5 separate regions of the Homo sapiens genome follow, and all the other regions are linked to region 1. The links come from fine-mapping of genetic effects on plasma protein levels. A gene starts in region 1. Each other region holds a variant in brackets. All regions are shown on one strand. Distances are between the middles of the regions.

Region 1 (5,000 bases):
AAGTTAGAGCAGGAGGAAAAAGTATATGATTTAGGCTTTGGGGTCAGACAGCTTGGGTTGGAATTTTGACTTGATTTGAATTTTGACTTGAATCATGGGCAAATTTCTTAATCTCCCTAGGTTTCAGTTTCCTCATCTATTAAGTGGGGGTAAATGATACTTACTTGTATCCTAGGATCATGGTTAGAATTCGGTGAGAAAATGATTGGAAAGCCCTTAACTCAGAGCCTGGCACACAGAAAGGCTCAATCAGTGCTTATTATAATTAAGAGCCAATGGTAGTAATGACTGCTCTTCTTGCCTTGGAAATGGCGCTTCCCCCCATCTCTTTGATGTATGCAGGATACTGGACTTGATTGGTTATTGTCACTGTGTTTCCTTTGAGCTGTCCTGACTACCCATCAATTGGGGATACTACACAAGAGGTCAGTCCAGAGATCTCTCCCAGCCCCCAAACCTTCAGAGTGCAAATCTTTTTGTAGCTTGACCCCTTTGCCTCCAGTGAGTGGCAAAGCTTGGGACATCTTGAGAGCACCATCTTGCTGATCCATGCTTTGGGTGGGCCATTTTCTCTTTCTTGAAGCCTGAACCCACTGCACTGGCCTGATTGACTCTCCCAAAGAGCACTGTTCCCCCCTCCCACACAGTCCCTCTGTAAGTGATGCTCATATCACTGGTTCTCAAAGCAAAGTTTACAAAGACCAGGGTCATCCTGAGAGTATGTGGGCAGATTACATGGTGCACTTGACCCTTGCTCCTTTGTGTTTACACAGGCAGAGTCAGGCCAGACTACATGCCAGGGTGACCTTAAGAGAGAAAAGAGGCCAGGCATGGTGGCTCATACCTGTAATCCTAGCACTTTGGGAGGCCGAGGTGGGCAGATCACGAGGTCAGGAGTTTGAGACCAGCCTGACCAACATGGTGAAACCCCGTCTCTACTAAAAATACAAAAATTAGCTGGGCGTGGTGGTGTGTGCCTGTGATCCCAGCTACTCAGGAGGCTGAGGCAGGAGAATCACTTGAACTCGGGAGGCGGAGGTTGTGGTGAGCCGAGATCGCGACACTGCGCTCCAACCTGGGCAACAAGAGCGAAACTCCATCACAAACAAAACAAAACAAAACAAAACACAACAAGCAAACAAACAAAAAAACAAAAGCGAAAAGAATGGCTGGGGCAGCCTAGGGCAGGTACACGTCTTTGTCCTCCCCACCCCCGTCACCAGGTCCTCGTAAACAATGATAGAGGGAGGAGATACGGAGGGGCAAAACAAACCCCCTCCTCCATAGGCCCCAATTCTCCCTTTCCCCACAGCTCCAAAACCTTTCAACCCCTTTCCTCTTTTCTGCAGATTTTATTTAGTCATAGGCTGGGGGATGGAGAAGGGGACCATAGATTCCCAAGCAGCCATTCCACTGGGACTCATTTTGGTTGTCTGATAGTCCCAGCAACCTGTGCCAGCCATGTTGAGGAAGGGCTCTCTCGGTTCAGACTCCCAATTCCTGGACTTAGACCCACATGATTGTTTGAACCTTCCTTCCTCTCGCCACTCATTCTTCCAGGGCACCTGCCACTTTTCTTTCTCATCCGCGTGCCTCCCCCTCCCTTTCATTGCATGCACTTCTTGTTGCATTTTCTGCTGCTTTCTTGGCCTCTCCTCCTGAATGATCATTCCTGCTCACCACGCTTGGGACTCCTGAGGAAATGGTGACCCAGTTTCCTGGAACTACTTACCCCAGAAAGATCCGGACCAACCCCAGCTCTACTTACAAAGGGGAGAATTGGAGGTCAGAAGCTATGCATGAAGGTGGGGAGAGCCCACAGGGTCTTATGAGGCCAGAGACCCGACAGCGCCCTTGGCACTACCTCCCTGCCAGCTGCTCCATCCCCCTTTCTCGTTCCTGCCCTACAGAGACAAGTGGACTCACTTGGCTGGCTGCGAGAAGCCGAAGTAATGATAAGGATGAGGACAAGGAGAGACAGGGCAGCCTCGGAGACCTTCATCCTCTCAGCGAGGCAGTACAGCTTCAGGGAGAGCCGAATGAAGATGTTGTCTGTTGCTGGTGGTCCGCTTGCCAACTACTCAGCTCTCTGGACCTTGACCGCATCAGAGCCGGTAGAGGAGGAGAAACAACAGGCCTCAGTGTTTGCTGAAACAGAGGGCAGCAGAGGATGGGACTTGGTGCAGAGCTGAATTCAGTAGAATCTGAATTCACGTGAAGAAATGGGCGAATGTGTGTCAGCTACCTTACATGCCCTATCTTATATAATCCTTAAAATAGTGAATAGCGATTATTACTTCCCTGGGACTACTGAGGCCTAGAGGCTAAATAAATTGTCCAAGGTCACCTGGGTGGATAGGCGGATGAAAAACCAGATCTGTTTGATTTCACCATGTTACCTGCCACCATCTGTATGTTGGGGAAGGGCAGGCAGGGTTGAACCACCCCAGCTTCCCCCAGGTGATCAGTCTTGGGGAGATGAGCACAAAGCAGGATTACAGAGCCCAGACTGAGGCAAAGGTAGGGCTTAGTTGCCTCTGAGAAGGAAATGCCCTCTCCCAGTCCAAGGCCACATGATTGAGCTCACACTCTTTCCTGTCACAGTGTATGCTAATACTCCAAAAAAAAAAAAAAACAATGTGCCTGATCCTTGGGTCCCCATTTGTTGCTGGACCGTTTGACTTATTTGTCAATGTTTTTATTTATCTCTTTGGACCTCGGACTTTGGACTGATTTTTAGGTGTAGCCAGCTCGCTGATCCCTCCTGGGTGCCCCCATGGCCAACCATGACCAGCAGGGGACCCTCCAACTCTGTGCACCTGACAACCTGCGTCTGTGCTCCAGGACTCCAGCTTCTGCCCCTCTGGCCTGGGCTCTGGCTGGACCTGTCCCACAGCTTCCTCTCTCTTCAGGTGCCTCAGGACCCTTTTCCATGTTGAAAGCTGCATTTAGAGAAGAGATCAAAGATATAAGGGATTTTGCTGTTGATGGACAGCAAGCTTTAGAGGCATAGGTGATGTGTTTCAGGTGTTGAGGGCAGTGGGAGGCAGGGGCAGAAACAGGGACTGTGCAGATCCTTATGGGGCTTTCTGCTTGGCATGACTGCTCATAGATAGGTAAACCGTATAATGCAGTTACTCCTGGTGGGTTCAAGGCTTCACCTGGTGGTGAAGCTGTGGCTTTTTGTGAGGGCAGGGAGGGTACGTATGTGGGGCATCCTCTTGACCTCTGTTTATGGAGGTGACAAGGCCTGAGAAGCCTGGTTGTGACTTTGGCATGCAGGCCCCCATATGGCCCTTAATGTGGCCCACAAGCCCTTCCTTATCTGTGGAAGGCTGGAGGCCAGGAAAGGGTGGTCATAATCCCTACTCTGGGCAAGCTCTTATTCCAAGTACACAGAGCTCCTCCTTGGGCCCTGAAGATAGGTTTGAGAGCTTATTCTTGGAGCATAGTCCTCCTCTTGATTTCTGTCTTATTCCATCTGTCCCTCTATCCCTCCCTCCCTCTTTCTCTCCATCCATCCATCCATCCCTCCCTCCCTTCCTCCCTCCCTTCCTCCCTTCCTCCCTCCCTTCATCCCTCCCTGCTTCCCTCCCTCCATCCATTCCTCCTTCCCTTCATCCTTCCATCCACACATTCTTCCCTTCCTTCATCCATCCATCCATCCATCCATTTCCTGAACACCTGGTATGGGCTAGGCTTTCTGCTAAGCCTTCTAGGGGATAAAAAAGTTAGTAAAACAATATAGTATAATCTGATGTGTGTAAGCGAAGGGGAGGGGTTGGATAAAATGTCTTCATGCATCATTCCTATTCCAGACAGCAGTGAAGAAAGGCCTTGAAAACAGCACAGAAAAAAGGACTATGGAGTTTGACTGCTATAGAGAGCCCTTTATGAAGTGTTACCTAAAAAATCAAATGATGATTTGTAGCTTTTACACTTGTCATGAAGCTTAAATAAGATAATGCATACAGACTGCCTAGCAGAGTGCTTGGAGTATAGAAAGCATTAAGAAAACGGGGTCTGCTACTGTTGTTGCTGAGGAGGAGACGGTCTTTACACTGCTTTTCTTTCTCACTTTCTGCTTCTCACTACCTGCATTGCAGGCCTGACCTATTTTTTGTACCAGGCTCCAGCAAAACTTCTGCAGAGCGAGGCTTGATGCCGAGGGTGCCACACCCTGGTGTCCTCAGTGCATGGCCAATGAGTAAATCCCGTAGAAAGGAATGAGGCCAGGGAAGAGCATGAGTGGTCTTTAATTCAAAGCAGGGAAGCTCCAAGAGGGTGACTGGGGCTGAGAGTTAGCGGTGGGTGGAGGAGGGGGCCTTGGCATCTTCTCTTTATGTCTCTGAGCTGTGCCTTCGCCACCCCTTCTGGGTCACTCAGTTCTCCTTCATGTCCTTGATATAGTCCTGGACCCACTTGTCACTGGGGTTGGTACAGACGGAATGGCCCCTTTTGGTGATGAAGCTGTGGAGCAAGAGGGAGAAGGATCACAAACCGAGGGGCCCAGTGGCCGGAAGAGACAGCCCATCTTCCCTCCCTCCTAAATTCCCCACCTGACCTATACTGCTTTTCCTTTCTTCCACAGAGGCAGCTTAGAGCCAGTCTCCTCTCTGAGACATACTCTTCGGTTCCTAGGACCCCTAGACCCATCTAGTCTCTGTGTCCCCCTGAGGAAGTGCCCTCTTGCCTTCTTCTCCCTTCTCTGTCATCTCCCCATCCATGGGGTCAGTTTCCCCATGGCTCCTGCAGGCTCCAGCCAGAAAGCGCTCAGATTGCCCCTCAGCTGCCTCTCCCCATGTAGTCACACCTGGGAGGTACGCTGGGGGTCCCCATTCCACCACCACTCCCTGCTTCCCTCCAGGAGGCCCTGCTGGCTCCCTCTCCCCCCAGTGTGATGTGTGTGTACCACCTACACAATTCCGGGCTTGGAGCACTGGCTGTTGGTCTCATAGTAATCCATAATCCGCTGACGCGGGATCTTGTAGGTAGTGTAG
Region 2 (5,127 bases), 600 kb before region 1:
TTGGGTTAATACAAAGACCTTGTCTGTGAGCTCTGAATTTCTTTCATCTACTTGGTCAATTCTATTGCTGAGACTTTTTAGAGCATTCTGCAATTCTAAAAGTGTGTCCAAAGTTTCCTGAATTTTTGATTTTTTTTTCTTTAAGCTATCTATTTCCTTGAATATTTCTCCCTTCACTTCTTTTAGCATTTTTTGGATTTCCTTGCACTGGGATTTTCTCTGGTCCCTCCCTTATTAGCTCAATAACTAACCTCCTGAATTTTTTTTTTTTTTTTTTGGGTAAATCGGATTTCTTCTTGGTTTGGATCCATTGCTGGTGAACTAGTGTGATTTTTGGGGAGTATTGAAGAGCCTTGTTTCATCATATTACTGGGGTTGGTTTTCTGGTTCTTTCTCATTTTGGTAGCCTCTGTCAGAGGGAAGGTCTAGGGCTGAAGGCTGTTGTTCAGATTCTTTTGTCCCACAGGGTGATCCCTTGATATAGTACTCTCCCCATTTTCCTAAGGATGTGGCTTCCTAAGAGCTGAGCTGTAGTGATTGTTATCTCTCTTCTGGGTCCAGTCACCCAGCAAGTCTACCCGGCTCTGAGCTGGTACTGTGGTTTGTCTGCACAGAATCCTGTGATGTGAACCATCTATGGGTCTCTCACCAGTGCCTGTTCTGGTGGAGGTGGCAGAGGGTGCAACAGACTCCATGAGGGTCCTGAGCTTTGGTGGTTTAATGCTCTATTTTTGTGGTGGTTGGCCTCCTTCCAGGAGGCTGCACTTTCCAGAAAGCATCAGCTATAGTAGGCCCCAAGTAGGCCCCAGTGTCTGTTCTTCCCCGCTTTGTGTCCATTTGTTCTTATCATTTAGTTCCCACTTATAGGTGAAAACATGCCATATTTGGTTTTTTGCTCCTGCATTAGTTTGCTAAGGATAATGGTCTTCAGTTTCATTCATGATCCTGCAAAGGACATGATCTCATTCTTTTTTATGGCAGCATTGTATTCCATGGTGTACATATATCACATTTTCTTTGTCCAGTCTACCATTGATGAGCATTTAGGTTGATTCCATGTCTTTGCTATTGTGAATAGCGCTTCAAGGAACATACGCATCAGTGTCTTTATGGTAGAAAGATTTATATTCCTTTGGGTATATACTCAGTAATGGGATTGCTGTGTCAAATGGTAGTTCTGTTTTTAGCTCTTTGAGGAATTGCCGCACTGCTTTCCACAATGGCTGAACTAATATACACTCTCACCAAAAGTGTATAAGTGTTCCCATTTCTCCATAACCTCGCCAGCATCTGTTATTTTTTGATTTTTTAATAATAGCCATTCTGACTGGTGTGAGATGGTATCATGTTGTTTTTGCTTTTGTTTTTTTGAGATAGATCTCACTCTGTCACCCAGGCTGGAATGTAATGGCATGATCTTGGCTCACTGCAACCTCTGCCTCCTGAGTTCAAGCAATTCTCCTGTCTCAGCCTCCAGAGTAGCTGGGACTACAGGCGTGCACCACCATGCCCAGCTAATTTTTTGTATTTTTGGTAGAGATGGGGTTTCACTATGTTGGCCAGGCTGGTCTCGAACTCCTGACCTCAAGTGATCCACCCACCTCAGCCTCCCAAAGAGCTGGAATTACAGTGTGAGCCACTGCGCCTGGCCCTCATTGTGGTTTTGATTTGCATTTCTCCAGTGACAAATAATATTGAATTTTTTTCATCTGCTTGATGGCCAAATGTGTCTTCTTTTCAAAAGTTTCTGTTCATGTCCTCTGCCCACTTTTTAATGGGGTTGTTTTTTTCTTGTAAATTTGTTTAAGTTCCTTATAGATGCTAGATATTAGACCTTTGTTAGATGGATAGATTGCAAATATTTTCTTCCATTCTCTATGCTGTCTGTTCACTCTGTTGATAGTTTCTCTCGCTGTGCAGAAACTCTTTGGTTTAATTGGATCCCCTTTGTCAATTTTTGCTTTTGTTGTGATTGCCTTTGGCATCTTCATCAGGAAATCTTTGCCAGTTCCCATGTCCAGAATGGTGTTGCCTAGGTTGTATTCCAGGGTTTATATAGTTTTGGTTTTACATTTAAGTCTTTAATCCTTCTTGAGTTGATTTTTGTATATAGTGTAAGGAAAGGGTCCAGTTTCAATCTTCTATATATGGCTAGCCAGTTATCCGAGGACCATTTATTGAATAGGGAGTCCTTTCCCCATTGCTTATTTTTATCAGCTTTGTGAAATATCTGATGGTTGTAGGTGTATGGCATTATTTCTGGAATCTACTCTGTTCCATTGGTCTGTGTGTCTGTTTTTGTACCAGGTCCATGCTGTTTTGGTTACTGTAG[C/A]CCTACAATAGTGTTTGAAGTTGGGTAACGTGATGCCTCCAGCTTTGTTCTTTTTGTTTAGGACTGCTTTGGCCATTTGGGCTCTTTTTTAGTTTGATATGAATTTTAAAGTTTTTTTTTCTAGTTCTGTGAAAAATGTCATTGGTAGTTGGATAGGAATAGCATTGAATCTGTAAATTGCTTTGGGCAGTATGGCCATTTTAATCATACTGATTCTTTCAATTCTTGAGCATGGAATGTTTTTACATTTGTTTGTGTCATCTCTGATTTCTTCAAGCAGTGTTTTGTAATTCTCATTGTAGAGCTCTTTCACCTCCCTGGTTAGGTGTATTCCTAGGTATTTTATTTTTTGGTGGCAATTGTGAATGAGATTTCATTCCTGATGTGCCTCTCATCTTGGCTGTTGTTGGTGTATTGAAATGCTAGTGATTTTTGTGCATTGGTTTTGTATCCTGAAACTTTTCTGAAGTTGTTTATCAGCTAAGAGAGCTTTTAGGCCAAGACTATGGGGTTTTCTAGGCATAGAATTATGTCATCTGCAAACAGGGATAGTTTGACTTCCTGTCTTGCTATTGGGATGCCCTTTCTTTCTTTGCCTGATTGCTCTGGCCAGGACTTCCAATACCATCTTGAAGAAGGGTGGTGAGAGAGGGCTTTCTTGTCTTGTGCAAGTTTTCTAGGAGAATGCTTCCAGCTTTTGCCCATTCAGTATGATATTGGCTGTGAGTTGGTCATAGATTGTTTTATGTCTGATTGTGTGGTGGTCAGTTATAGAGTACATGCCACGTAGCAATGAGAAAAGTGTATATTCTGTTGTTTTGGGGTGGAGAGTTCTGTGGAGGTCTATCAGATCCATTTGGTCCAATATTGAGTTCAGGTCCTGAATATTTTTGTTTATTTTCTGCCTTGATGATCTTCTAATACTGTCAGTGGAATGTTGAAGTCTCCCACTATTATTGTGTGGGAGTCTAAGTCTCTTTGTAGGTCTCTAAGAACTTGCTTTATGAATCTGGATGCTCCTATGTTGGTTGCATATATATTTAGGATGGGTAGGTCTTCTAGTTAAATTGAACCCTTTACCATTATGTAATGCCCTTCTTTTTTATTTTTTTTACCTTTTTTGGCTTGAAGTCTGTTTTGTTTGATATTAGGGCTGCAACTGCTGCTTTTTTCTGATTTCCATTTGCTTGGTAGATTTTCCTCCATCCCTTTTTTTTTTTTTTTTTTTGAGCCAATGGGTGCTTGAGAAATGGTTGTCCAGGAGACAGAATACCATTGGCTCTTGCTTTTTTATCCAGCTTGACATCCTGTGCCTCTTAAATGAGGCATTTAGCCCATTTACATTCAAGGCTAGTATGTTAGCAAGTTGATATGTGTAGATTTGATCCTGTCATTGTGTTGTTAGCTGGTTATTATGCTGGCTTGTTTGTGTGGTTGCTTTATGGAGTCACTAGTCTAAGTACTTACATGTGTTTTTCTGTTTGCTGGTAATGGCCTCTCCTTTCCATATTTAGTGCTCCTTTCAGGATCTCTTTTAAGGCAGGTCTGGTGGTAATGAACTCTCTCAACATTTGCTTATATGCAAATGATCTTACTTCTTTGCAGAGGAAGCTTAGTTTGGCTGGATATTAAACCCTTGGTTGAAGATTTTTTTCTTTAAGAATGTTAAATACAGGCCCTCAATCTCTTCTGGCTTGTAGGATTTCTTCTGAGAGGTCCATTGTTAGCCTGGTGGGGTTCCCTTTGGAGGTGACCTGTGCTTTCCCTCTAGCTGCCTTAAATATTTTCTTTCATTTCTCTCTTGGGGAACCTGATGATTATGGGTCTTGGGGATAATCTTCTTGTGTAGAATCTTGCAGAGGTTCTCTGTATTTCCTGAATTTGACTGTTGGCCTCCCTAGCAAGGTTAGGGAAGTTTTCCTGGACAATATTCTCAAAAATGTTTTCCAAGTTGTTTGCTTTCTCCCCACCCCTTTCAGGGATTCCAGTGACCCATAGATTTGGCCTCTTTACATAATCTCATATTTCTGGGAGGTTTATTCATTTCTTTTTATTCTTTTTTCTTTATTTTTGTCTGACTGCTTTATTTCAGAGAATCAGTCTTCAAGTTCCAAGACTGTTTCTTCAGCTTGGTCTATTCTGCTGTTAATACTTGCCACTGCATTGTGAAATTATTGTAGTGTGTTTTTTCAGCTCTATCAGATCAGTTAGATTCTTTATTATACTGGCTATTTCATCTGTCAGCTCCTGTTTTATTGTGATTCTTGGTTTCATTAGATTGGGTTTTGCTGGTCTCCTCAATCTCAGTGATCTTTGTTCCTGTCATGTTCTAAAGTATACTTCTGCCATTTCAGCCTAGTTACAAACCCTTGCTGGAGAACTAAGTGTGGTTGATTGGAGGACATAAGATACTCCGGCCATTTGAGTTGTCAGAGTTCTTGTGTTGGTTCTTTCTCATCTTTGCATGTGGATGTTCCTTTAACTATGATGTAGATTGAATACACTCAGAAGACTTCTTTTCCGGATGTTTTCACAGGTCAAGGCTTTGTGCAGGGTCTTTATGTATAGCTGACTTATCTTTGGTTTGACTGGATTGTATGTTAGCAAGGTATTTTGGTGCTGAAGCTTTGGGGTGTGGTCCAGTTGGTGGTGCTTAGCGTACTGGCCAGTTAATAGACTCTTGCTCGGTTATGCGGTTTTTGTGTTTCCTCACAGTTGCAGCTGTGCTCTCTCTCAATGCTCTGAAAGTGTGAGCTCCTCTCCCACTTGAGTTCTGGCTGTAGATTGTCTTGGCA
Region 3 (5,127 bases), 680 kb before region 1:
AATATTACTGATCAGGGAAATGTAAATAAAACCACAATAATATATCACCTCATGCTGTTAGATTGACTATTACAAAAAAGATGAATGAAAACAAGTGTTGGAGAGGATGAGGAAAAAAGAAAACTCTTGTACACTGTTGGAGGAAATGTAAATTAGTACAGTCATTGATATGGTTTGGCTGTGTCCCCATCCAAATCTGAGCTTGAATTGTATCTCCCGGAATTCCCACATGTTATGGGAGGGACCCAGGGAGAGGTAGTTTAATGATGGAGGCCGTCTTTTCCCATGCTATTCTCATGATAGTGAATAAGTCTCATGAGATCTGATGGGATTATCAGGGGTTTCCTCATTTGCTTCTAGCTCATTTTCTCTTGCCACCACCATGTAAGAAGTGCCTTCACTTCCCGCCATGATTCTGAGATTTCCCCAGCCATGTGGAACTGTCCCAATAAACCTCCTTTTCTTCCCAGTCTTGGGTATGTCTTTATCAGCAGCATGAAAACAGACTAATATAGTAAATTGTTACCAGTAGAGGGGTATTGCTGAAAAGATACCAGAAAATGTGAAAGTGATTTTGGAGCTGGGTAACAGGCAGAAGTTGGAACAGTTTGGAAGCCCCAGAGGAAGACAGGAAAATGTGGGAAAGTTTGGAACTTCCTAGAGACTTGTTGAATGGCTTTGACCAAAATGCTGATAGTGATATGGACAATAAGGTCTAGGCTGAGGTGGTCTCAGATGGAGATGAGGAGCTTGTTGGGAACTGGAGTAAAGGTGGATCTTGTTATGTTTTAGCAAAGAGGCTGGTGGCATTTTGCCCCTGCCCTAGAAATTTGTAAAACTTTGAACTTGAGAAAGATGATTTAGGGTATCTGGTGGAAGAAATTTCTAAGCAGCAAAGCATTCAAGAGGTGACTTGTTAAAGGCATTCAATTTCATAACAGAAGCAGAGCATAAAAGTTTGGAAAGTTTGCAACCTGACTATGCAATAGAAAAGAAAACCCCATTTTCTGGGGAGAAATTCAAGCCAGCTGCAGAAATTTGCATAAGCAGTGAGGAGCCTACTGTTAATCCCCAAGACCATGGGGAAAATGTCTTTAGGCCATGTCAGAGACCTTCACAGCAGCCCCTCCCATCACAGGTCTGGAGGCCCAGGAGGAAAAAGTAGTTTCCTGGGCTGGACAGAGGATCCCTGTGCTGTGTGCAGCCTAGGGACTTTGACAGAACAGGAGCATCACCATCTTGGACAAACACCACCATTCTAAAGTTCCCCTTAATCAAAAACCACCTAAATCCACAGGGCATCAGCCTAAAGGCTAAGGCCAGCATGACCATAAACCATAAATGACATCTCTGACCAGAAACATTTCAACCATAAGATAAACCCCTCCCCAGAGAGATGTCAGCCCCAAGACAACCTCCCCTCCTACCAGAGACATTCCAAACCCACAATAAACTTCTTCCCCACAAAGAAACATTCCAAGCCTATGATAAGCTCTCTCACCCTAAAATCAACAAATACGCTTAATCTGTAAGAGAGTGTGCTCCTGACCAAAATCAGCCAGAAGCCCCTCTCAGGTTTATTCTCCAAAATAAACCTGTCTTTGACTGGTGAGTCACTTTTCGTGTTTCTTTCCTCTTTCTTTAACTCTTACATTTGCTGCCAAAACTCAGGATGGGTGCTGGGGGTAGAGGTTCTCCTGCAACCCAAAAAGCAGTGGACAGCAGCTGCTCATCCTGCTGGATCCTGAGAGTCTCTGGCCACCCATCTTGTCTTGTCTCTCACTTCACTTTTCTAGCAATTTGTCTGAGGAGGACAACTAACCTGAAGGGGACTGTGAGGCTCAGGCTGGGGCAAATCTCCAGTGAACCCTCAAAGCCCTCAGGTCTTAGGAATCCACCTCTGGCTGCCCACAATGGGTATTTTGCTCTCTTCCCTCCTCCCTCATCCTCTTCTCTCTCTCTCTCTCTCTCTCTCTCTCTCTCTGTCTCTCTCTCCCTCTCTTCCTTGTGAAGCTCTAGTCCAAGGGGCCCTTTGCCAATTCCAATCAGAACATCCAACATCGGACACTAATCCAGCTGACTAGTAAGATCTGCCCTCTCCTGACTTTCTCACAGCACCTGGGAGAGTCAGGTCAGCTGTCCCGGTCCTCAGAGGACCAGTGGGACTAAGCTAGAAGAAATCTTGGAGATGCCCAGTTTCTTCGCAGCTTGATCATCCTCTTTATAAAGAGGATTCCAGGTTTCTGTCTTTTATCTGTGGATGCCTAGAACAAAAACAGACACCTTCAGCTTCCTCTTACCAGTCCACATGGGTGCCAAACAATCCCACTTTCCTAAGTCCTCTCCATTGGGCTGTCTCCTTCACAATGTTGCTAAGCTTGGCTTAAAGGAAGCATAAAGCCAAAGAGTATGCTTTTTTATTGCAACATGGCCTGGCCCCAATACAAATTAGATAATGACAGCTGGTAGCCTGAAAATGGCACCTTTGACTTTCAAATTCTCAGGGACCTTGACAACTTTATAACTAGGAACAGCAAATGGCAGGAGGTTCCCTATATTCAGGCTTTCTTTTACTTTAGATCCCAACCCTCCCTGTGTCAAACTTGCACCCCTCATGAAGTCTTTCTTCTTAATGATAAC[C/A]TTCCCCAGGTCTCTCCTTTCTCTGAAACTCCTTCCTCCAAAACCCCTTTGACCCTGCAGATGAACCCCCTCCATATTCTTATCCCCCTGCATCTGCTCCTCAACCTATCTGAATCCTCCACTTCAGTGACGCCTCCTGCCCGCAAGCTTTCAGCTCCAAACCCTGCTCCTTCTCCTTCTCCATCTGTTACCCATTCAAAAACTGCTCCAACCAGTCAAACCACCCTGCCATTCTCCGTCTCCAGGAAGTGGCTGCGGTTGAAGGCATTGCTCCCATTCATGCCCTTTCTCCACATCTGATTTGTCGCAGATCAAACAGTGCCTGGGATCTTTCTCTGAAAATCCCCCTGACTAGTGCAGGGAATTCCTGCACATAACCCAATCCTTTAATTTAACATGGCATATTTATATAATTCTAACCTCCACCCTCACCCCTGATGAAAAACAGCTCTCAATTTAATTAAAATGAATATTCAAGCTATGAGTATATTCAAAAGGCCTTTATGTTTTTCTCTTCATAAATCTTGTTTTCCTGGAAAAGGTTTTTTTCCCCAGTCAACTGAATTACTTTTCTCCACTCTGTCTTACCACTCTTGGTGCATATATGAAAAATCCCAAAATGACTTCTGGTGGCCTGGGACTCCTTGGGAAAACAGAAAAGCTGCCACAAATCCCGTTTTGGGAAAAAATCTGTTTTCCTTATGGAACCCCTGGAATTAAAGATGAATAAGTACCTCTCAAAATCTGTCTTTGTCTTCCAGCTATGCTTGTTTATTAGGCCCTGGAAACTGTTTTCATAGCCCTGTTCTTAAAGGGTCTCACCCAAAGGCCAGTGATCCAATTGGGAAAGGGGCAAAAAAAAAAAAAATTCTAATTACTGGATCTTCTTCTGGTTGTCTGTGTGGCTATGTATGTGTTATGTGTGCAATGCCTATTTAAAAAGCTCTAATTAATTGACCTAAGAAAAATAAGCACTTAAATCAAATATTTTTAACAGAAAAGTAAAAGCTGTGGGACCTTTCAGTTCATGTGACTTTAATCTTTAAAACTTACTAGTACAGTAAGATTAGAAATGTCTTAAAAGTTTCCAGCATACATTTTTGTTTGCATTTATTAATCAAGCAATTTCATAGTTATCTCTGCCAAATACTATAAGATGTGAAAATTTTGCATAGAGGCCACAAAACTATAACTCAGCCCAAACAGAATAATCTTTGCTTCTGTAATTTTTTAATCAATGAAACATTAATATTGGTTTAATAAAGATAGCTACATCTTGAACTATTTAGTGAAATACCCTAACTTCTAATCTTGATATTAAAGAAAAAAGAATTTATGGCCAGGCACAGTGGCTCACGCTTGTAATCCCAGCACTTTGGGAGGCCGAGGCAGGTGGATCACGAGGTCAGGAGATTGAGACCATCCTGGCTAACATGGTGAAACCCCGTCTCTACTAAAAATACAAAAAATTAGCCAGGTGTGGTGGCAGGTGCCCATAGTCCCAGCTACTCGGGAGGCTGAGGCAGGAGAATGGCATGAACCCAGGAGGCAGAGATTGCAGTGAGCTGAGATCGCGCCACTGCACTCCAGCCTGGGTGACAGAGCAAGACTCTGTCTCAAAAAAAAAAAAAGAAAAGGAAAATTTATATAAAAAAGAATCTTATATGGTAAATTCTTGTCCTAAAGTAAATTAACTGGTTGTTTAAGGAGAGGGATGTTTACAAGTCAGAAAGTCAAGGCATGTCAGAGATTGTCTGTGTAAGTCATGAAAAATTTTATAAAAGGGAGAGTATGGACAAGATGGATGAATAGGAACAGCTCTAGTCTGCAGCTCCCAGTGAGATCAGAGCAGAAGTCAGGTGATTTCTGCATTTCCAACTGAGGTACATGGCTCATCTCACTGGGACTGGTTGGACAGTGGGTGCAGCCCATGGAGGGTAAGCCAAAGCAGGATGGGGCGTTGCCTCTTCTGGGAAGCACAAGGGGTCAGGGAACTCCCACCCCTAGCCAAGGGAAGCCATGAGGGACTGGGCCATGAGGAATGGTACATTCTGGCCCAGATACTATGCTATTCCCATGGTCTTTGCAACCTTCAGACCAAGAAATTCCTTCGGGTGCCTACACCACCATGGCCCTGGATTTCAAGCACAAAACCAGGCAGCCATTTGGGCAGACATTGAGCTAGCTGCAGGAGTTTTTTTCATACCCCAGTGGCACCTGGAACCCAGCAAGATAGAACCATTCACTTCCCTGGAAAGGGGGCTGAAGCCAGGGAGCCAAGGGGTCTAGCTCAGCAGATCCCACCCCCCATGGAGCCCAGCAAGCTAAGATCCACTGCCTTGAAATTCTCTCTGCCAGCACAGCAGTCTAAAGTTGACCTGGGATGTGTGAGCTTGGTGGGGGGAGGGGGGTCCACCACTACTCAGGTTTAAGTAGGTGGTTTTCCCCTCACAGTGTAAACAAAGCCTCTGGGAAATTGAACTTGGT
Region 4 (5,127 bases), 480 kb after region 1:
AGATGGAGCCTGGTGCCCCCACCTCAGACCCCAAGCCTCAGCTCCCTCCCTATAAAATGGCCTCCCAGTGGATTAAAAAGTACACATATAAAGCACTTGGTGCCAAGCATAGCAGATGCTCAGGGCACCTCAGAAGTTAACTGGGTTACTTATGAAAGAGGGTTTGCTGGAGCAGCCTGCTTGCCGCTCACCAGCATCCCTCTCATATCTGTTCCCATGGAGGTAGGGACAATGCTGAGGACTGGCTGGGCGAGGACAGAGGCTCCCGGGGTGGTGTGGGCGTCTGGTGGCAGCAACAGGGCTGCTGCAGGAGCATGTAGTGTGTGTCAAGTGGTAGTGGCACAGCTGCTCAGAGGGAACTGCCTGCCCGGCACTTCACTCTCATGCCCTGGCACTTCACTTTCATCATGAACTCATTCGTGCCTGTGCGCTGGATCTGCCATCATCCACATATGAGTTGAGCTCCCTTCCTTTGCCAGCCCTGGGTGAGGCACCAGGGGTAGGAGGGTGGGACAGGGAAATGACCAGGGCATCTCCCAGGCTTTCTGGAGCTCTCAGACCTCCCGCTTCTGTTTGGGCTGGCTGCCTCGTGTTCCTGCTATGAATTGTCATGCATGAGTGTTTCTGCCCCTTCATTTATGGGGTCCCCAGGCACTCCACTCCCACCCCATGACATCCCATTTTTCTGAGTCTCACAGCTTCTGCATTTTAGTTCACTTCTTTACGTTTGTGAGGTACATTCTCTGGAAGTTTCCTGGCAGAGGTACATGGAAGGTAAAGTTTTCAGACCCTGAACATCTAATGATATCTTTTTTCTACTCTTACATTTGATCAATATTTTGACTAGATATGTACTTCCATATGGAGATAGTTTTCCCTCCAACATTTGAAGTTTACTTCTGTATTCTTCCGGTGTTGCTGTGACAATATCTAGTCCCTAGGGGGTGGACTTCTTTTCCCCCAGAAGTTTTAGGATCTTTTGTTTATCCTGTAGGCATTTTTCAAAATTGCCAGTGCTGTGCTTTCTATGGTATTTTTTTCACGCATTATGTGGATATGTGGTATCAGTTCCTTCAGCTGGTAAACATATGCTCTTCCATTCTGGGGATTTACAAAAATTCGTTATAATAATTTCCTCCCTATTGTTTTCTCTTCCTAGAATTTCTACTAATACGAAGTTAATCAACTAACTCTTTTCGTCTCCTTCCTTCCTTCCTTTTCTTTTACTCCAATTCTCCTTCCCCTACCTCCAGCTAACTTCCTGGGAGATTTTTTCAACTTTATCCTCCAATCCTACTGAATTTTTATTAAACAGCTTAAATTATTTAAAACATTTTTCTTAAGAGATGGGGTCTCACTTGTTGCCCAGGCTGGTCTCAAGAGATCCTCCTACCTCAGCCTTCAGAAGCTCTGGGATTATAAGTGTGAGCCACCGCACCTGGCTAAACAGTTTAAATTCTAAAAGCTCTTTCTTTTTCTTAGACTAGTTCTTTCTTTCCATCAAATTGATTTTGTTTCTGTTTTTGTCTTTTTGAGACAGTCTTGCTCTGTCGCCCAGGCCGGAGTGCAGTGGCACAAACTTGGCTCACTGCAACCTCTACCTCCTGGGTTCAAGTGATTCTTGTGCCTCAGCCTCCCGAGTAGCTGGGATTACAGGACTGCCACCATGCCTGGCTAATTTTTGTATTTTTGGTAGAGATGGGGTTTCACCATGTTGGCCAAGCTGGTCTCGAACTCTTAGCCTCAAGTGATCCTTCTGCCTCGGCCTCCCAAAGTGCTGGGATTACAGGTATGAGCCACCACATCTGGCCTCAAAAAGGCTAACAATCTTTGACTATCTCTTCCTGTCTGGGGATGAGGCATTAAAAAGCTGCTCAGAAGTTCCAGCAGAAGGGGCTACTCCTAAGAGACACAGGACCAGAAAATACAGACTCAAAAGTAGGCCTTGGTGCGCTGGGGCTGCCCCTCATCCTCCACTGGGCCTTTGCATCTGTTCTAGGCTCACAGAGAGAGCAGAATGGGAAACGGGGACCATTCCAGGTGGTGTATGGAGGGTTGCATTTGCTCTGTGCACTGCCCAGTGTGATGTTCCTCAGCCTTACTGTAGGTCATCCAGGTGGTAGAATTATTCTGGTTTATACAGATGCTGAATTATTCTATTTGGCGGGAGCCTTGCCACCCTGGGCTTCAGGGAGACCCTCTCCCAGGGCCCCCTGGGTTTTTCCCATTCTAGCAGGCTTGCTGAATGCGTTTGGATTCACATTCTTCCCCAACAACTGCTGTCACAGCTCTGGATTGGCTACCGCAATGAGAAGGTAAAGCAACACTTTGTGTCTCACGACCTGAGGGCCCAGCAGGTGTGGCCGGCAGCCAAATCCCGACATCTGCACTTCCTCCAGGCTCCTGCCCCTCCCCACGGTGTGCCCAGCAGTCTCCTTTCCTCAGTGGATGCTGTTCATGTCCTTGCCATGGCTGCCAAGCCAGCCAAGAGGTAACATGTTGGTCCTCGGGCCACAGAAGCCCTCTTCTGTC[C/G]CTCCAGGAGGATTACTTTGTTAAGAGCCTGGAGTGGCTGTTTGTTAACTACCATAGTAACCATAGCAGTCTGGCTCTGAACAAGGGAACCCCATTAGCATCAGCTCCTTGATGGATGAGGTGGAGAGCAGGGGACAGGGAAGAGGATGTTGCTGAGAAGTTTGAAGAAGTTAGTCATTAGGAGTCTTGGTGACTGTCCCGTGCCCTCTCTGCCCTTCTGTCTCCCCTAATGTGTTCACTAATACCCACCTTTTCTGTCTCTTGGGGTCACTCTAATGTCCATGGTGACACTTGTTATTATCTATTGCCAGGGGACCCACAATGTGAGGACCATGAGGGAGGGGAGTTAGATCTTCCTGCCCCATGGTTGACAGTCCACCTCAACCATGGGGCAGAGCAGCCCCTCAAGGGGCTGAGCAGCACCATCTGTCTCAGACATCATCCAGGGTGTACCAGCAGGCACCCTAGAGAAGGAAGGGGGCCAGCTACAAGAGTCAAAAGCAACATGATTCAGTATGCAGCACAATCATTTTAAGAATCCTGATTCTGGGCTGGGCGAGGTGGCTCACGCCTGTAATCCCAGCACTTTGGGAGGCTGAGGCAGGTGGATCACTTGATGTCAGGAGTTGCAGACCAGCTTGGCCAACATGGCGAAACCCCATGTCTATCTAAAAACACAAAAATTAGCTGGGCATGGTGGTGGGCACCTGTAATCCCAGCTACTTGGGAGGCTGAGGTAGGAGAATCACTTGAATCCGTGGGATGGAGGTTGCAGTGAGCCAAGATCATGCCACTGCACTCCAGCCTGGGTGACAGAGTGAGACTCCATCTCAAAAAAGGAAAGAAAGAAAGGAAGGAAGGAAGGAAGGAAGGAAGGAAGGAAGGAAGGAAGGAAGGAAGGAAGAAAGAAAGAAAGAAAGAGAAAGAAAGAAAGAGAAAGAAAAGAAAAGAAAGAAAGAAAGAAAGAAAGAAAGAAAGAAAGAAAGAAAGAAAGAAAAGAAAAGAATCCTGTTCTGGGACAGCTCAACAGCCCTGAGGCCACCACCTGCTCTTTGCCATAGTGTGAACTCATCCCTGACACAGAGCCCAGTCCCCTGGGGCCCTGCTCACGGGGTCTAGCCAGAATGCTCTCCACAGCTCGAAATGGAACGGCCTAGCAGTTGGAGATGCCAGACGTGAGTTATTGAACACATCTGCCGAGACCAGAGACCAGGACACGACATTTGTATCTACCAAATGAGTGCTGGCAGCTAGCTCTGCTCCCCTGGAACATCCTCTCAAAACCCTTTTGCCTTGACTATTATCTCATCTCTCTCCTGGCCTGCACTGATCCTTGGCCGACTCTAAGAAGTCACCCGTGGGGGCCTGGGGCAAGACAGGTCATGGTTCTGGGCACCAGCACTGCCATCTGGCTGCTTCTTCTGGCCTCTCTTTGCTGGACTAGTGCCTGGCCCAATATCATGCCATCATGATCACGCTCAACTCGAGGGATATCATTTACTCCTTCAAGGGCAAGATTCTAGACCCCTCACTGCAGAGCCCTTCACTGGGGACACCCGGTCTTCTTTGCCTGCTTGGACATTGAGGGTGGAGGGAGGAAGGGGTTGTGGGCATCCATAGAAGCTGTGGGGGGCATCCAGAAATAAGGGAGAGAGGCATCTTCACTGCTGGCGGTGTGCGGGACCAATTCCAGGGATTGTCTGACTGCGCTCCCCCCCACCACCCCATAGGTAGCAGGGTCTGCTGGGCTTGGATGCCAGTGGGAAGAATGCGTTCTTCGAGAGTGAGTGGACCCTCCTCTGGGCTCACTGGAGGGGACGGGTCTGGAGCAGGCAGAGTGAGCCGCTGCTTGCGGGATCCGGGATGGAGCTCAGGAATGGAGCTCCACACTCTCCCAGCTGCCTGGCCCGGGACAAGCATTGGCCCTTTCTGGGCCTCCTCAGGAATCTCCAACCTCCGAGGCGATTCTAGTTTAAGCCTGATGAGGCAGACGTGCATCCGGGCGGATGATTAGCCGGTGTGGGCGCGGCCTGGAGCGGGCCCAGGCTGGGGAGTGGCGGCTGCACGCGGTGACGACTGTGTGTTCGCTGAGTCAGGGCCCGGAGCGCTTCAGCACCGCGGCTTGGACAGCGCCCCGGGGCAAGCGGGTGGCGCTCTCCCTACAGGGACAAATGACCCCAGGGCCGGCATTTCTGACCTAGAGAACGGGCCTGGATTGCTCTGGCGGGTTCTGAGCCTGGGGTTGGGGGCGGGTGGGGAGCGGACGAAGTGGGGGCGGCCTTTGGAGACGATGGCAATTTACCGCCTTAGGCGGGCAAGCGCACGAGTCCCGGGAACCCTAAACAGGTTGGGGTGCCCCTTGGGGTCTAGATGAGGCCCGGGCTTGCGATAAAGCGTGGCGGCGTCTAGACATAACGTCCCATCTCCTGAACCCGTCAAGGCCGGTGGCACCCAACCTGGCGGGCTCATCTAGGACCAGTCCACACCCAAGGCCCCAAGACCCAAAACCTCCTGGGCTGGGTCTGCCTGGCTAGGGGCCCCTCATCCTGGGCTCTACTCTTTTGGCGCAGAGGCCATGTGGCAGGCCCCTGGTCT
Region 5 (5,127 bases), 650 kb before region 1:
ATGTTGGCTGTGACTTTGTCATAGATGGCTTTTAATATATTGAGGTATATCTCTTATATGCCAATTTTGCTGAGAGTTTTAATAGTAAAGTGATGCTGGATTTTGTCAAATGCTTTTTCTGCATCTATTGAGATGATCACATGGTTTTTGTTTTTAATTTTGTTTATGTGATGTATCACTTTTTTTTTTTTAGACAGAGTTTTGCTCTTGTTGCCCAGGCTGGAGTGCAATGGCCCAATCTTGGCTCACCGCAACCTCTGCCTCCTGGGTTCAAGCGATTCTCCTGCCTCAGCCTCCCGAGTAGCTGGGATTACAGGCATGTACCACCATGCCTGGCTAATTTTGTAATTTTTTTCTAGTAGAGATGAGGTTTCTCCATGTTGGTCAGGCTGGTCTCGAACTCTCAACCTCAGGTGATCCACCCACCTCGGCCTCCCAAAGTGCTGGGATTACAGGGGTGAGCCATCGCACCCAGCTGTGTCACATTTATTGACTTGCATATATTAAACCATCCCTGCATCCCTGGTATGAAACCCACTTGGTCATGGTGGATTATCTTTCTGATATGTTCTTGAATTTGGTTAGCTAGAATTTTGTTAAGGATTTTAGCATCTAATGTTCTTTATGGATATTGGTCTGTAGTTTTCTTTTTGATTATGTCCTTTCCTGGTTTTGGTATTAGGGAGATACTAGGTTCATAGAATGACTTAGGAAGGGTTCTCTCTTTCTCTGTCTTGTGGAATAGTGTCAAAAAGATTGTTACCAATTCTTCTTTGAATGTCTGGTAGAATTCTGCTGTGAATCCGTCTGGTCCTGGACCCTTTTTTTTGTTGGTAATTTTTAAATTACCATTTCAATCTTACTGCTTGTTATTGGTCTGTTCAGGACATCTAATTTTTCCTGATTTAAGCTAGGAGGGTTGTGTCTTTCCAGGAATTTATCCATCTCTTCTAGGTTTTCTAGTTTACGCATGCAAAGGTGTTCATAGTAGCCTTGAATGATCTTTCACATTTCTGTGGTGTCAGTTGTAATCTCTTCCGTTTCGTTTCTTACTGAGCTTATTTGGATTTTCTCTCTTCTTGGTTAATCTTGCTAATGGTATATCAATTTTATTTATCTTTTCAAAGAACTAGCTTTTTGTTTTATTTATCTTTTGTATTTTTTTGTTTTAATTTCATTTAGTTCTGCTCTGATCTTGGTTATTTCCTTCCTTTCTTCTGGGTTTGGGTTTGATTTGTTCTTGTTTCTCTTGTTCCTTGAGGTGTGACCTTAGATTGCCTGTGCTCTTTCAGATTTTTTGATGTAGGCATTTAGGACGATGAAATTTCCTCTTAGCATCACCTTTGCTGTGTCTCAGAGGTTTTGATAGGTTGTGTCACTATTGTCATTCAGTTCGAAGACTTTTTAAATTTTCATCTTGATTTCATTTTTGACCCAATGTTCATTCAAGAGCAGGTTATTTAATTTCCATGGTTTTGAAGGTTCCTTTTGAAGTTTATTTCCAGTTTTATTCCACTGTGGCCTGAGAGAGTGCTTGATATAATTTCAATTTTCTTAAATTTATTGAGGCTCATTTTGTGGCTATCATATGGTCTATCTTGGAGAAAGTTCCATGTGCTGTTGAATAGAATGTGTATTCTGCAGTTGTTGCATGGAATGTTCTGTATATATATGTTGAGTCCATTTGTTCCAGGGTGTAGTTTAAATCCATTGTTTCTTTGTTGGCTTTCTGTCTTAATGACCTGTCTAGTGCTGTCAGCGGAGTATTGAAGTTCCTCAGTGTTACTTTGTTGCTGTCTATCTCATTTCTTAGATCTATTAGTAATTGTTTCATAAATTTGGGACCTCCAGTGTTAGGTGAATGTATGTCTAGTATTGTGATAGTTTCCTGTTGGACAAAGCCTTTTATCATTATATAATGTCCCTCTTTGTGCTTTTTTTTATTATTATACTTTAAGTTCTGGGATACAAGTGCAGAATGTGAAGGTTTGTTACATAGGTATACACGTGCCATGGTGGTTTGCTGCACCCATCAACCCATCATCTACACTAGGTATTTCTCCTAATACATCCCTCCCCTAGCTCCCCACCCCCTAACAGGCCCCGTTGTGTGATGTTCCCCTCTCTGTGTCCATGTGTTCTCATTGTTCAACTCCCACTTATGAGTGAGAACATGTAATGTTTGGTTTTCTGTTCCTGTTAGTTTGCTGAGAATGATGGTTTCCAGCTTCATCCATATCCCTGCAAAGGACATGAACTCATCCTTTTTATGGCTGCACAGTATTCCATGGTGTACATGTGCCACATTTTCTTTATCCAGGCTATCATTGATGGCATTTGGGTTGGTTCTAGGTCTTTGCTATTGTGAACAGTGCTGCAATAAACATACGTGTGCATGTGTCTTTATGGTAGAATAATTTATAATGTTTTGGGTATATACCTAGTAATGGGATTGCTGGGTCAAATGGTATTTCTGGTTCTAGATCCTTGAGGAATTGCCACACCGTCTTCCACAATGGTTGAACTAATTTATGCTCCCACCAACGGTGTGAAAGCGTTCCTATTTCTCCACATCCTCTCCAGCATCTGTTGTTTCCTGACTTTTTAATGATCGCCATTCTAACTGGCATGAGGTGGTATCACATTGCGGTTTTGATTTGCATTTCTCTAATGACCCAGTGATGATGACCTTTTTTTCATATGTTTGTCAGCTGCATAAATGTCTTCTTTTGAGGAGTGCCTGTTTACATTCTTTGCCCACTTTTTGATGTGGTCGTTTGTTTTTTTCTTGCAAATTTGTTTAAGTTTTTTGTAGATTCTGGATATTAGCCCTTTGTCAGATGGATAGATTGCAAAAATTTTCTCCCATTCTGTAGGTTGCCTGTTCACTATGATGATAGTTTCTTTTGCTGTGCAGAAGCTCTTTAGTTTAATTAGATCTCATTTGTCAATTTTCGCTTTTGTTGCCATTGCTTTTGGTGATTTAGTCATGAAGTCTTTGCCCATGCCTGTGTCCTGAATGATATTGCCTAGGACTTCTTCCAGGGTTTTTATGGTTTTAGGTATTGGGTTTAAGTCTTTAATCCATCTTGAGTTACTTTTTGTATAAGGTGTAAGGAAGGGGTCCAGTTTCAGTTTTCTGCTTATGGCTAGCCAGTTT[T/C]CTCAACACCATTTATTAAAGAGGGAATCCTTTCCCCATTGCTTGTTTTTGTCAGATTTGTCAAAGATCAGATGGTTGTAGATGTGTGACATTATTTCTGAGGCCTCTGTTCTGTTCCATTGGTCTATATATCTGTTTTGGTAGCAGTACCATGCTGTTTTGCTTACTGTAGCAATTGTAGTATAGTTTGAAGTTGGGCAGCTTGATGCCTCCAGTTTTGTTCTTTTTGCTTAAGATTGTCTTGGCTATACGGGCTCTTTTTTGGTTCCATATGAAATTTAAAGTAGTTTTTTCTAATTCTGTGAAGAAAGTCAACAGTAGCTTGATGGGGATAGCATTGAAACTATAAATTACTTTGGGCAGGATGGCCGTTTTCATGATATTGATTCTTCCTATCCATGAGCATGGAATGTTTTTCCATTCATTTGTGTCCTCTCTTATTTCCTTGAGCAGTGGTTTGTAGTTCTCCTTGAAGAGGTCCTTCACATCCCTTGTAAGTTATATCCCTAGGTATTTTATTCTCTTTGTAGCAGTTGTGATTGGAAGTTCACTCATGATTTTGCTCTCTGTTTGCCTGTTGTCAGTGTGTAGAAATGCTTGTGATTTCTGCATATTGATTTTGTGTCCTGAGACTTTGCTGAATTTGCTTTTCAGCTTAGGGATATTTTGGGCTGAGACAATGGGTTTTTTGAAATATACAATTATGTCATCTGCAAACAGAAACAGTTTGACTCCCTCTCTTCCTATTTGAATACGCTTTATTTCTTTTGCATGATTGCCCTGGCCGGAACTTCCAACACTATGTTGAATAGGGGTGGTGAGAGAGCATCCTTGTCTTGTGCTGGTTTTCAAAGGGAATGCTTCCAGCTTTTGCCCATTCAGTATGACATTGGCTGTGGGTTTGTCATAAATAACTCTTATTATTTTGAGATATGTTCCATCAATACCTAGTTTATTGAGAGTTTTTAGCATGAAGGGGTGTTGGGTTTTAACGAAGGCTTTTTCTGCATCTCTTGAGATAATCATGTGGTTTTTGTCATTGATTCTGTTTATGTGATGGATTACGATTATTGATTTGTGTATGTTGAACCAGCCTTGCATCCCAGGTATAAAGCTGACTTGATCGTGGTGGTTAAGCTTTTTGATGTGCTGCTGGATTTGGTTTGCCAGTATCTTATTGAGGATTTTAGCCTCAATGTTCATCAGGGATATTGGCCTGACATTTTCTTTTTTTGTTGTGTCTCTGCCGGGTTTTGGTATCAGGATGATGCTGGCCTCATAAAATGAGTTAAGGAGGATTCCTTCTTTCTGTTTTGTTTGTAATAGTTTCAGAAGTAATGGCACCAGCTCCTCTTTGTACCTCTGGTGGAATTCGGCTGTAAATCCGTCTGGTCCTGGGCTTTTTTTTTTTTATTGGTAGACTATTAATTACTGCCTCAATTTCAGTACTTGTTATTGGTCTATTCAGGGATTTGACTTCTTCTTGGTTTAATCTTGGGAGGGTGTATGTGTCCAGGAATTTATCCATTTCTTCTAGATTTTTGAGTTTATTTGCATAGAGGTGTTTATAGTATTCTCAGATGGTAATTTGTATTTCTGTGGGATCAGTGGTGATATCCCCTTTATCATTTTTTATTGTGTTTTGATTCTTCTCTCTTTTCTTCTTTATTAGTCTGGCTAGCCATCTATCTATTTTGTTAATTTTTTCAAAAAACCAGCACCTGGAATAATTGACTTTTTGAAGGGTTTTTTTATGTCTCTATCTCCCTCAGTTTTACTCTGCTCTTAGTTATTTCTTGTCTTCTGCTAGCTTTTGAATTTGTTTGCTCTCACTTCTCTAAATTTCTACTCTGATCTTAGTTCTTTTAATTGTGATGTTAGGGTGTCTATTTCATATCTTTCCCGCTTCCTCCTGTGAGCATTTAGTGCTATAAATTTCCCTCTAAACACTGTTTTAGCTGTGTCCC

Alleles and levels. Positions count from the first base shown, and alleles are read on the strand shown. Strength reflects both the effect of a copy and how common the allele is.
For the plasma level of the protein whose gene starts at base 2,079 in region 1, allele C in region 2 goes with a higher level than allele A (weak association).
In carriers of allele C in region 3, the plasma level of the protein whose gene starts at base 2,079 in region 1 tends to be higher than with A alone (weak association).
As copies of C replace G in region 4, the plasma level of the protein whose gene starts at base 2,079 in region 1 goes up (weak association).
For the plasma level of the protein whose gene starts at base 2,079 in region 1, T is the high allele of the variant in region 5 and C is the other (weak association).

The links. PIP is the posterior inclusion probability: the model's chance that the variant is causal. The UK Biobank Pharma Proteomics Project read protein levels with antibody pairs (Olink). The fine-mapping took linkage between variants from a reference panel, not from the people measured, so its PIPs are less certain.
Region 2: its variant is fine-mapped to the plasma level of the CCL16 protein (UK Biobank, PIP above 0.99).
Region 3: its variant is fine-mapped to the plasma level of the CCL16 protein (UK Biobank, PIP above 0.99).
Region 4: its variant is fine-mapped to the plasma level of the CCL16 protein (UK Biobank, PIP above 0.99).
Region 5: its variant is fine-mapped to the plasma level of the CCL16 protein (UK Biobank, PIP above 0.99).

Annotation. Positions count from the first base shown.
Region 1 is chr17:35,979,419-35,984,418 of GRCh38, forward strand. It overlaps CCL16 (C-C motif chemokine ligand 16), which reads right to left and starts at 2,079. Exons shown (of 3, transcript NM_004590.4): 1 at 1,927-2,079. The coding sequence starts at 2,002. It overlaps CCL14 (C-C motif chemokine ligand 14), which reads right to left. Exons shown (of 3, transcript NM_032963.4): 2 at 4,920-5,000; 3 at 3,870-4,470. The coding sequence ends at 4,383. CCL15-CCL14 (CCL15-CCL14 readthrough (NMD candidate)) reads right to left here. Exons shown (of 7, transcript NR_027922.3): 6 at 4,920-5,000; 7 at 4,238-4,470. RefSeq lists an enhancer at 2,594-2,889 and a silencer at 2,594-2,889.
Region 2 is chr17:35,383,971-35,389,097 of GRCh38, forward strand. No RefSeq gene overlaps it. Among named protein-coding and RNA genes, the nearest start is that of SLFN11, 13 kb to the left of the region's middle. The variant C/A (reference allele first, on the strand shown) is at 2,333.
Region 3 is chr17:35,296,422-35,301,548 of GRCh38, forward strand. No RefSeq gene overlaps it. Among named protein-coding and RNA genes, the nearest start is that of SLFN5, 56 kb to the left of the region's middle. The variant C/A (reference allele first, on the strand shown) is at 2,641.
Region 4 is chr17:36,459,514-36,464,640 of GRCh38, forward strand. No RefSeq gene overlaps it. Among named protein-coding and RNA genes, the nearest start is that of TBC1D3F, 23 kb to the left of the region's middle. The variant C/G (reference allele first, on the strand shown) is at 2,533.
Region 5 is chr17:35,325,975-35,331,101 of GRCh38, forward strand. No RefSeq gene overlaps it. Among named protein-coding and RNA genes, the nearest start is that of SLFN11, 45 kb to the right of the region's middle. The variant T/C (reference allele first, on the strand shown) is at 3,161.